Linked DNA regions of Homo sapiens: region 1 is linked to region 2. The links come from fine-mapping of genetic effects on gene expression. A gene starts in region 2. The other region holds a variant in brackets. All regions are shown on one strand. Distances are from middle to middle. Region 1 overlaps TMCO4 (transmembrane and coiled-coil domains 4). Region 2 holds the start of HTR6 (5-hydroxytryptamine receptor 6).

The links. PIP is the estimated chance that this variant, and not a neighbour inherited with it, causes the effect. A credible set is the group of variants that fine-mapping cannot tell apart.
Region 1: its variant is the best candidate, but not a certain one, in a credible set for the expression of HTR6 in lymphoblastoid cells (GEUVADIS, PIP 0.52).

Annotation. Positions count from the first base shown.
Region 1 is chr1:19,688,047-19,693,413 of GRCh38, forward strand. The region is part of intron 15 of TMCO4 (transmembrane and coiled-coil domains 4); the gene reads right to left. Among named protein-coding and RNA genes, the nearest start is that of HTR6, 26 kb to the left of the region's middle. RefSeq lists an enhancer at 1,002-1,516. The variant C/T (reference allele first, on the strand shown) is at 3,068.
Region 2 is chr1:19,662,104-19,667,409 of GRCh38, forward strand. HTR6 (5-hydroxytryptamine receptor 6) reads left to right here and starts at 2,772. Exons shown (of 3, transcript NM_000871.3): 1 at 2,772-4,364. The coding sequence starts at 3,651. RefSeq lists a silencer at 2,586-2,815 and enhancers at 2,594-3,566, 3,567-4,537.

The sequences.
Region 1 (5,367 bases), 26 kb after region 2:
GAAGATTCAGCCCCTGACCATCTCCCAGGCTGTCTTGATTGAATCTGCCAGCTGCCTGGATACACGCCGGATGTGACTGGCGTGCAGAAGCCTTCCGTGGCTTCCCGTGTTGGCAGGGGCCTCTGTGGACACCCTGTGATGGCACTCATAACCTGTCATCGTCACATGCTCATGAGGTTGCGTTCCCTGATAAACTGAGCGCAGGGGAGCAGAGACCACTTCTCACTCACCTCTGTGCCCCACAGCCAGCCCCGCACATCGTGGGGTTTCCGTGGGAACCAGATCCCTGCAGGTACAAATGGGGCCCAGCCCTTCCTGTTTCCTGCCTCAAAAGACACCCCAACTTACCCAAACAGAGGCTGCCATCACCCACCTCCATCTGCCCCAGTGACTCCTTCCAAGCCCATCAGGCCCCTTTGGGTTCTTTCACTTCTTGGACCTCAATTTCCTCATGTATAAAATGAGGCTAATAAAGAGACCTATACCACGTGGGCTGGCTGTGTGGCTTTGATAATACATGTAACAGGCTTATTGGCACAGGGTTAGAGGCCACTACCAGAAGCTACAGAGATGTGTGAATGCAGGCAGTACTGAAGCAGTGGTTAACAGCCCAGGTTCATCCGGCTCTACCACTCACATGCCGTGGCACCGCCTGCAGCCTCAGTTTTCACACCTGTACAACGGGTTACTACCACTATGCAGGACCTCTATGAGGATCAAATGACTTACCCCGTAAAACATGTGAGTTGTTGGCTACTGCGGTTATTATCAAGTATCTACTTTGTGCCAAGCCTTTTGCTAAGTTCTAGGCCACCTGGCATTTCTGCTGGGACATGGAGAATCTTGCCGTGGGTTGGATCTCTGTGCCCCAGAAGCCTCATGAGTTGGTCCCTGGGGTGGCAAATCCCCCACCCACTGTAACCTTGTCCCTGTGAGGAGAGACTGAGGGGCAGGAGGGCAGCTTCATTCACCCCAGAGATGCGCCCTGCCTGCAACAGGGCCAGCCCAGTGGGATGATCACAAAGGGCCCTGCTGCGTGGTTGGCCCAGCAGGGAGAAGACAGGTCCTGTGGGTCTCTGTTGGGAGCAGAGGGTGGCCAGCATTTCCCCAACAGCAGTAATGAAACCTCCCTTGCCAGCAACTTCTCCAGCAAAGCATTTTCAAGGAAAACAGGAGGCCAGCACAAAGGCAGTGCTAATTACCTCTAATTACCCAGAAGAGGAAAGCACTGTTTTTTGTGATGTACTCCTAATGTGATAAAGAGCTATTATTAGGCAGGAGCTGGGAAGCTGCCACGAAGACAGCCTGAGGAGGGAGCGGAGTCTCCAAAACTGCTGGTCCCAGAGGCAAACAAACTGGGGGTGGTGGCAGGGGCAGGCCGGGAGGGACTAGGATTAAAGGAGGGCCTACTATGCACCAAGCATCTTACATGCGCTGCCCTGGAAGTTAGGCGTTTCCACCATTTCCTAGATGAGGACACTGAGACACAGAGAGGTTAAGTAACTGGCCCAAGGTCACACAGCCAGTAAACCAGTGGCAGAGCCAGGATTCTAAGCCATGCCTCTCTGGTGCCAAAGGCTGTGCTCTTCCTACCATATCCCATTCCCAGTAGAAATCAGATCTTGTGAGGGCTTTGCAGCATTAAAAGCTACTTTCTTCAGCAGATGCTTTTTATCTCTGATTCTTCTGGCAAAGGGAGACTCCTGGGGTGCTGAGGCACAAAGTCCCTGCTCCCTTTCACCCCATTCAGGGTGCAGGCACCTTGAATAGGACAGAGAGCCCTGGACATGGGTCAGGAGGCATCAGCTCTGAGCCCTGTTGATGGTGACAGGAGGCAGCCAAATGCCTAGGCAGACGGGGTGGGTCCCTGGTGAAACCCCACCTTCAAGCCAAAAAAACAGCCTGAAGGCTGAAAGACTGGACTGCTGGTCCCACATGAAACCTGTGACCCAGAGTGAGAACTTCTGTTCCTGTTTGCCCACACTTCCCCTATTCTGAGCCCATAAAAGCCCCAGACTCAGCCACATTGTGGGGACTTTCCTGCCTTTGGGTAGGGGAACCATCCACTCATCCCCTCTCTGCAAAAAGCTGTTTCATCACTCAATAAAACTCCTCGCCTTGCTCACTCTTCAATTATCAGCGTGTCCTCATTCTTCTTGGATGCTGGACAAGAGCTTGGGACCCACTGAGTGTGGGTACCCAGAAAGGCTGTCATACTGGCCTTTTGCCCTCATCAGTGGAGGGCAGCTGCCCCACGTGATGGGGTCAGGGGCCGACTGAGCTGTTAATACACCACCGTCTATTGGGCCGTCAATGGTGGAACTAAAACAGCTAATTAGCACACTAACGCCCCCTCTGGGGCTTCAGGGTTGTGGGTACCCCTGCCCAGGTGCTGCCACTTTCCCCTCGAGGCAACACGCCTGGTCTGGCCACAGGCCCAGCATGGAGCTTGCTCTTGTGTCGGTGTTTGGAGTGGTCAGCCAGAGCCCACACTTGCTCATTCATGTGCTTCCTCCTGCAAGGGGCTGAGTGTGGTGGACCGAGTAGATGGGGTGCCCCTGCTGCAAGTGTGGCCAAGGGGCTGAGAGAAAATTCCTGTCACTGTGGTTTGCTGGTCTTGTGACTCAGCTTACCTCATTCCCACAGAGAAGTGGGCAGCACAGCTTCCAAGCTGGGCTCAGAGTCCAGACCTACAACTCTGGCTATGACTCCATGCTCCCAAGTCTCAGTTTCCCAATCTATGATCTGGGGATGCTTAATACCTCCTCTAGGGAGTTGCGAGGTTTACAGCATGTGAGCCAAGTCTATCTGTGAAGACTCTTTTTTTTTTTTTTTTTTTTGAAACAGAGTCTTGCTCTGTCACCTAGGCTGGAGTGCAGTGGTACCCTCTCGGCTCACTGCAAGCTCCACCTCCTGGGGTCATGCCATTCTCCTGCCTCAGCCTCCCGAGTAGCTGGGACTACAGGTGCCCACCGCCACACCTGGCTAATTTTTTGTATTTTTAGTAGAGACGGAGTTTCACTGTGTTAGCCAGGATGGTCTCGATCTCCTGACCTCGTGATCTGCC[C/T]GCCTTGGCCTCCCAAAGTGCTGGGATTACAGGCGTGAGTCACTGCACCCGGCCCCTGTGAAGACTCTTTAACCAGGAGCAACCAGTTTCATAAATGGATGAGCCTAGAAATGACTCTTATTCTACCCCAGTCCCCAAAGCTCCCAGTTAGGAAGGCACAGGGTGGCTTCATTTGTGATCCTCTGGTGGGTTAGGAATTTTGTCTTAAGGCCCTGGAAGTTTAGGGGTGAAGATACAAGTGAACTGGCCCCAGCGACCTGGTGTCAGGCCAGGTGAGAGGCCCAGGTGACCTCTGGGCAGGGACATGGCTGACAGACTTTATGGACAGCAGCACCTGGTGAAGTTTTGATTTTGTTTTTTTGTGCAATAATTCCCCCATGTTATCAAATGCTCAGTCAAGTCTCAAAACACATGCAGCCCAGTGTGAGCCACACTGTGGTGGCACGGGTGGGTCTGAGGCCTAGCTTCATTGGCCATTGAGATGCAGTGGTGGAGTGATCAGAACAGGCAGCTGCTGATCCTGAATGGGGAAGCCAGAATGCCCCTCAAACCAGGGGATTTTTAGATGCCCAGAAAGGAGTCTAGTCTGTCTGCAGGAAGCAGCTGCTCAAACAACCATGAGTGGAAACTGGGTGATATGGTTTAACTGTGTCCCCACCCAAATCTCATCTTGAATTGTACTCTCATAAATCCTATGTGTTGTGGGAGGGACCCAGTGGGAGATAATTGAATCATAGGGGTGGTTTCCCCCAACCTGTTCTCATGGTAGTGAATACGTCTCCTGAGATCCAATGGTTTTATAAGGAGAAACCCCTTTCACTTGGTTCTCTTCTCTGTCTTGCCTGCTGCCATGTAAGACGTGCCTTTCACCTTCCGCCATGATTGTGAGGCCTCCCCAGCCACGTGAAATTGAGTCCATTAAACCTCTTTTTCTTTATAAATTACCCAGTCTTGGTATGTCTTTATCAGCAGCGTGAAAATGGACTAATACACTGGGTTACATGTGGGAAGCACTTGGCACTTGATAAATGGCAGCCAGCAACATAATAACTAGAAACCAAAGATTTTGTTCTCAGGGTCCCCTGATTGCTGAAGTCGGCTTGTGCTTGTAGTTACAGCTTATTCCTTATTCCTCCCCTCCCCGCCTCCCCCTATGGAGCACCTCTCCCACTGGTTCTCATATCTACCTGGGCTGGGGCTACATCTATTGGCTTCAGACCTGGGTTTGAGTCCTGCTTTGCCATGTTTCAGCGGTGTGACCCTGGAATGTCTCTAAGCCTCAGTGACCTTGTCTGTACAATGGGGACAGTAATGTCTGTAAAAGGCTTAGGGCAGGCCGGGTGTGGTGGCTCATGCCTATAATCCCAGCACTTTGGGAGGCCAAGGCAGGTGGATCACCTGAGGTCAGGAGTTTGAGAACAGCCTGACCAATATGGCGAAACCATATCTCTATTAAAAATACAAAAAAAAAAAAAAAAAAAGAATTAGATGGGCGTGGTGGCAGGCGCCTATAATCCCAGCTATTTGGGAGGCTGAGGCAGGAGAATCGCTTGAACCTGGGAGGCGGAGGTTGCAGTGAGCCGAGATCGCGCCATTGCACTCCAGACTGGGCAACAGGAGTGAAACTCCACCTCAAAAATATAAATAAACAAATAAATAAATAGGCTTAGGGCAGAGCGGGACATAGAGTGAGTGTCCACATGGGAAGCTATTAATTCCCTAGGATAGCATGTGGCAGGTGAACGAGGTTCTTTCAAGTCTAAAAAAACTGAAGTTGGTCAGGCACGGTGGCTCACGCCTGTAATCCCAGCACTCTGGGAGGCCAAGGTGGGTGGATTGCTTGAGCTCAGGGGTTCAAAACCAGCCTGGGCAACATGGTGAAATCTTGTTTCTACCAAAACTACAAAAAATTAGCTAGATGTGGTGGTGCACACCTGTGGTCCCAGCTACTCAGGAGGCTGGGGCAGGAAGATCACTAGAGCCTGGGAGGCAGAGGTTGCAGTGAGCCGAGACTGTGCCACTGCACTCCAGCCTGAGCGAGACCCCATCTCAAAAAAAAAAAAAAAAAAAAAAAAAAAAAAAAAAAAGGCCAGGCACGGTGGCTCATGCCTATAATCCCAGCACTTTGGGAGGCTGAGGCAGGCAGATCACCTGAGGTCAGGAGTTCAAGACCAGCCTGAGTAATATGGTGAAACCCCATCTCTACTAAAAATACAAAAATTAGCCGGGCATAGTGGCAGGCTCCTGTAATCCCCGCTACTCGGGACACTGAGGCAGGAGAATGGCTTGAACTGGGGAGG
Region 2 (5,306 bases):
GCTATTCACACGTGTGATCATAGCTCACTGCAGCCTTGAACACTTGGCCTCAAGCAATCCTCTCACCTCAGTCTCACAAGTAGCTGAAACTAGAGTCGTGCACCACCACGCTCAGCTAATCTTTAGGTCTTTTTTTTAAAATAAAAGATATCAAGTATTGTGGGAAAAGTGAAAGCAGAAAGACTAATATTCTATGCACTACCTACAGATTTTTACAAAGCAACATTTATCAGGCAAAATTTTTTACTCATCTCATTCACAGCTCCACTGCCTTGGTTTCATAGCAGCAGAGAATTTAAGAGGCTTTGCACAACTTCACAGAGCAAGTGGCAGACTCTGGATGATGAACCCAGGATGCTGGGCTCCAAAATCCTTCCACACAGCACCTCTCAGGGTTGCAGCTGTTCACGTCAGAAATCCCTGGGCTCAAGGAGTTAGCACAGAGCTGAATGCATTACGATTGTGCTGATGGGAACACTAAAGCCAAGAGCTAGGTTTTTTTTTTGTTTTTTTGTTTTTTTGTTTTTTTTTTTTTTAGATGGAGTTTCGCTGTTTTTGCCCAGGCTAGAGTGCAGTGGTGTGATCTCAGCTCACTGCAACCTCTGCCTTGTGGGTTCAAGTGATTCTCCTGCCTCAGCCTCCTGAGTAGCTGGGATTATGGGCGTGCATCACTACACCTGGCTAATTTTGTATTTTTAGTAGAGACGGGGTTTCATCATATTGACCAGGCTGGTCTCGAACTCCTGACCTCAGGTGATCTGCCCGCCTTGGCCTCCCAAAGTGTTGGGATTACAGGCGTGAGCCACTGTGCCCGGCCAGCTAGTGTTAACATAGTATCAAAGACACAGATTACATCAGTGTCATTTAATCCCCTCAGCTACTCTGTGAGGTGGGTGCCATATTGTTCTGCTAACTATTACAGAAGAGAAAGCTGTGACCCAAGGAGATGGAGCCACTGGCCCTGTAATCCCAGAGCTGGGATGGAGCGGGGATCCCAAGCCATGTGTTTCTGACTCTCTGCCCAGGCTTGCTGTACTACGTTCTGTTCCTTGGGGGCATGGCAGAAATCGTCACAGTGGTGCAGTGTGGTGGCAAGGAGGAAGGACAGGCCTCCTCTATCTGCTTAAAAGATGCTTCTGTGGGCAAGGCTGGGGCTCTGAGCACCAAATAGCAGCTTAGAGTTGGCGGGTGGGTGCTGCAGGCTCTGAGGTGCCTGAGGGGAGGTTTTTGACCATCTGTAATGGGCTCTCTTTGCCATGGGCATCGAGCAGATCTGGGTTTCAGGTCCACTTCACCACTTGCTGCTGGTGATCTGGGGCAAGGCCCTTGGCCTCTCTGAACCCCAGTTTAACGTCTACCTCTCAGCATTATTGTAGGGGTCGGAATAAATAACTGGAGGAGTAGGAACCGTACAACAAAGCCCCTGGGGACAGCGCAGGAGCCTTCGATTTGGAAAGTATTATTTTTCTGTTTCTGTGGAGAAAAAATGATCCCACCCCGTTCTCTTTATACTACATTTTCTTTTTCTCTTTCTCTTCTTTCTTTCTCTTTCTTTCCTTTCTCTCTTTCTTTCTTTCCTTTTTTTTTTTTTTTTTTTTTTTTTTTTTGACAGAGTCTTGCTCTGTCACCCAGGCTGGAGTGTGCAGTGGCACAATCTTGGCTCACTGGAACCTCTGCCTCCCAGGTTCAAGCAATTCTCCTGCCTCAGCCTCCCGAATAGCTGGGATTACAGGCTCCCGCCACCACGCCCAGCTAATTTTTGTATTTTTGATAGAGACGGGGTTTTACCATGTTGGTCAGGCTGGTCTCGAACTCCTGACCTCAGGTGATCTGCCCACCTCCGCCTCCCAAAGTGCTGGGATTACAGGCGTGAGCCACCTCGCTGGGCCCACTTTCTCTGTTGATTATGCTTATTGTTTATTGTCTGTTTCTTCCACTAGAATGTAAGCTCCATGGAGGTGCGGATCTTTGTTTTGGCCACTGTAGTGTCCTGATGGGTCAGAACAGTGCCTGACATCTAGTGGATGCGCCTTAAAAGATGCATTGAAGTATCTGTTCAATGAATGAATGAATAACAGTATTAACCTGCACAGCAGTGTTAGGCAGAGACTCTTCTCAGCCAGAGGGGAGACGTACAGAGGGAGGTCACACCCAGGGGAAACCACACCCCACGCCTCTGCCTGCAGCGACTCTTAACACACCTGGCCTGGGGATTCTCAAATCTGTTCACGCTCTGTTAGACTAGGAGCGCCAACAGCTCAGGGACTTCATCCTTAGTACCTGGCCCCTTTGGGGATCGGGATGGTTTCTGCGGGAAAGGCCCTGGGGAAGGTTAGCTTCTTGCTCAAACTAACGGTGAAGAATGCCCAGAATTACTAACCCATTTTACAGATATGGCAACTGAGGCCCAGAGGGGTGTCAGGCGATTTGTCCAATATTTCCCAACTCCTGGCTCCCCTGAAAGCCCGGTGACCCCGTTGTGAGTGGGCAGGCACCCATTAGAGAGCAGCCCCTGGATAAGGGCAGGTCACAGCCCCCTGCTCCCAGTTCCGCCTGCGCCGCCGCCACGTGTGGGTTGGGAGGGGCATCTGAGGGTGTGGGGGCTGCCACAGCCCGGGAGGTGACCCCTCGCAGCTGGGGCGCTCTGATCTTCGGCCCACAGGCCCGGGGTGCCGGGACCCCGCCCTCCTGCAGGGCCAGGGCTCGGCTCTCCCCGCCCACCGCGAGGCGGGGCGCACGCTCCGCGGCGCGGGGACCGCGCGCTCCAGGCTGCACCCGGCCTCTCCTCCGCGCGTGCGGGCCCCTCGCGGCGCCTCCCGGGCTCGGGAGACCCGGTCCCGCCGCCCGCCCGGCCCGCGGCCGCCTCTTCCTCTCGCAGCCCCGCGGCGCTTGCCGCAGTCGCAGGCGGCGGAGCAGCCAGAGCGCCCCAGGTACCAGTGCGGGCGGGAGACGGAGGCGACCCTGCTGCCGGGTGGGGAGGGGGCGCCGCGCGGCCGCTGCCCTCCTCTTCCCGCGGGGCCTGGCGGCCCCGGCGAACCCCCGCGCCGCACAGGCCGTGTGCGCCGGATCCCGGTGCCTCCGCGCCAGCTGAGACCTGCCTTTCCCAGGGGCGGCTTTGCTCCGGCCCCTAGGCCCCCGCCCTGGTACCCCACACGCCCACCGGCCGCGGGGAGCCTGCTCCGGCCCGAGAGCGCCCATTCACCCCCCTCACCCACCTCCCCGCGTTCCCACTTCCCCGCACTCTGACCCGGCCGGACGCCCCTCCCCTATCTTGCCGCCCGCCCCCTCCAGGGGGCTCTGCTCCCACCCCAGGGAGCCCATCCGACCTCTGCTTGACTTCCCGCCGCTTCCTTCAGGGGCCTCGGCTCATCGGGTGCCCCTCCCCAAACTTCCAACCCGTTTGCTCCAGGAGTTCCTGCCCCATCCCCGAGGGCGCCCAAATAGCCACACTGTGTCCTCCTGTAGTCGCTGCCCCCTGACCTAGCGCGACCCAGCGCCCCCGCCCATGTCCCCCCACTCACCTCCCCCGGGGGGCGTGGTGAGTCGCGGTCTGTTCTCACGGACGGTCCCCGTCCAGCCTGCGCTTCGCCGGGGCCCTCATCTGCTTTCCCGCCACCCTATCACTCCCTTGCCGTCCACCCTCGGTCCTCATGGTCCCAGAGCCGGGCCCAACCGCCAATAGCACCCCGGCCTGGGGGGCAGGGCCGCCGTCGGCCCCGGGGGGCAGCGGCTGGGTGGCGGCCGCGCTGTGCGTGGTCATCGCGCTGACGGCGGCGGCCAACTCGCTGCTGATCGCGCTCATCTGCACTCAGCCCGCGCTGCGCAACACGTCCAACTTCTTCCTGGTGTCGCTCTTCACGTCTGACCTGATGGTGGGGCTGGTGGTGATGCCGCCGGCCATGCTGAACGCGCTGTACGGGCGCTGGGTGCTGGCGCGCGGCCTCTGCCTGCTCTGGACCGCCTTCGACGTGATGTGCTGCAGCGCCTCCATCCTCAACCTCTGCCTCATCAGCCTGGACCGCTACCTGCTCATCCTCTCGCCGCTGCGCTACAAGCTGCGCATGACGCCCCTGCGTGCCCTGGCCCTAGTCCTGGGCGCCTGGAGCCTCGCCGCTCTCGCCTCCTTCCTGCCCCTGCTGCTGGGCTGGCACGAGCTGGGCCACGCACGGCCACCCGTCCCTGGCCAGTGCCGCCTGCTGGCCAGCCTGCCTTTTGTCCTTGTGGCGTCGGGCCTCACCTTCTTCCTGCCCTCGGGTGCCATATGCTTCACCTACTGCAGGATCCTGCTAGCTGCCCGCAAGCAGGCCGTGCAGGTGGCCTCCCTCACCACCGGCATGGCCAGTCAGGCCTCGGAGACGCTGCAGGTACCTGGGGTGCGCAGGGAGACCCGGGCTGTGGGATAGAGAGGAATGAGCAGCCCCTGGGGACCCCCTGGGCATCCCCACTTAGCACACATTTGCTCATGGCCCTGCGTGGCTGTTGTGAGCGCCCACCTTTCTTCTGAACTCCAGAGCCAATGCCTGACCCACCCACCACAGGATAGCTCCGTCAGGATTTGGGGGCAGGCTTCTCCCAGGTACCATGTACAACAGGGAATTTATGGTGGCCCAACTCTCCCCATCTTTGCCTCCCTGGTCTTCCCCATCATGGCAAATGGCACCATTGCGGCATCACATGCCAGGAACTTAGGAATACTTTTCTCCCTCACCCTCATGCCATTCATTAGCGAGACCTGTTGGCGCTGCTCTAAACAGGTGCCATCTCCCCTGCCACTTCCTACCGGGGAGGCTGTGTAGACTTCTCCTGGCTCCCCTGCTTCTGCCGCAGACCCAGTACTCTCCATCTTCTGCATAGAAGCTGGAGCACTTAAAAAAGAAGTGATCATGTCACTCCCCTGCTTCAGACTCTTCAGGCTTCCCACCGTGCTCCAGATAAAGAAAACCTGTCTCAGGATCTGGCCTCAGGATCCCACACTGCCATCCTCTCCAGTGTCACCTCCCCTCTCCCTCTCTCTTACTCTGCAACAGCCTTGTGGCCTTTCTCACGGTTCTAGAAGGCACTGGGCTTACTTCTGTGCCCAGGTCTTTGCACTTGCTGTTCCCTGTGCCTGGAATGTTCTTCCCCCGGCTGCCTTCTTCCCAGGGGCCATCTTTGACCACCCTATCTGCAGGCCCATCTGCACTCTCCATCCCTGTTATTCTCCATAAGAACAAGTCATAAAAATGACTTGTTCATTTTGCCTCCCTGACTTGAATATAAGCTCCAGGAGGGTCACACATATTGAGATCAGTTTTTTTGCTTTTTTT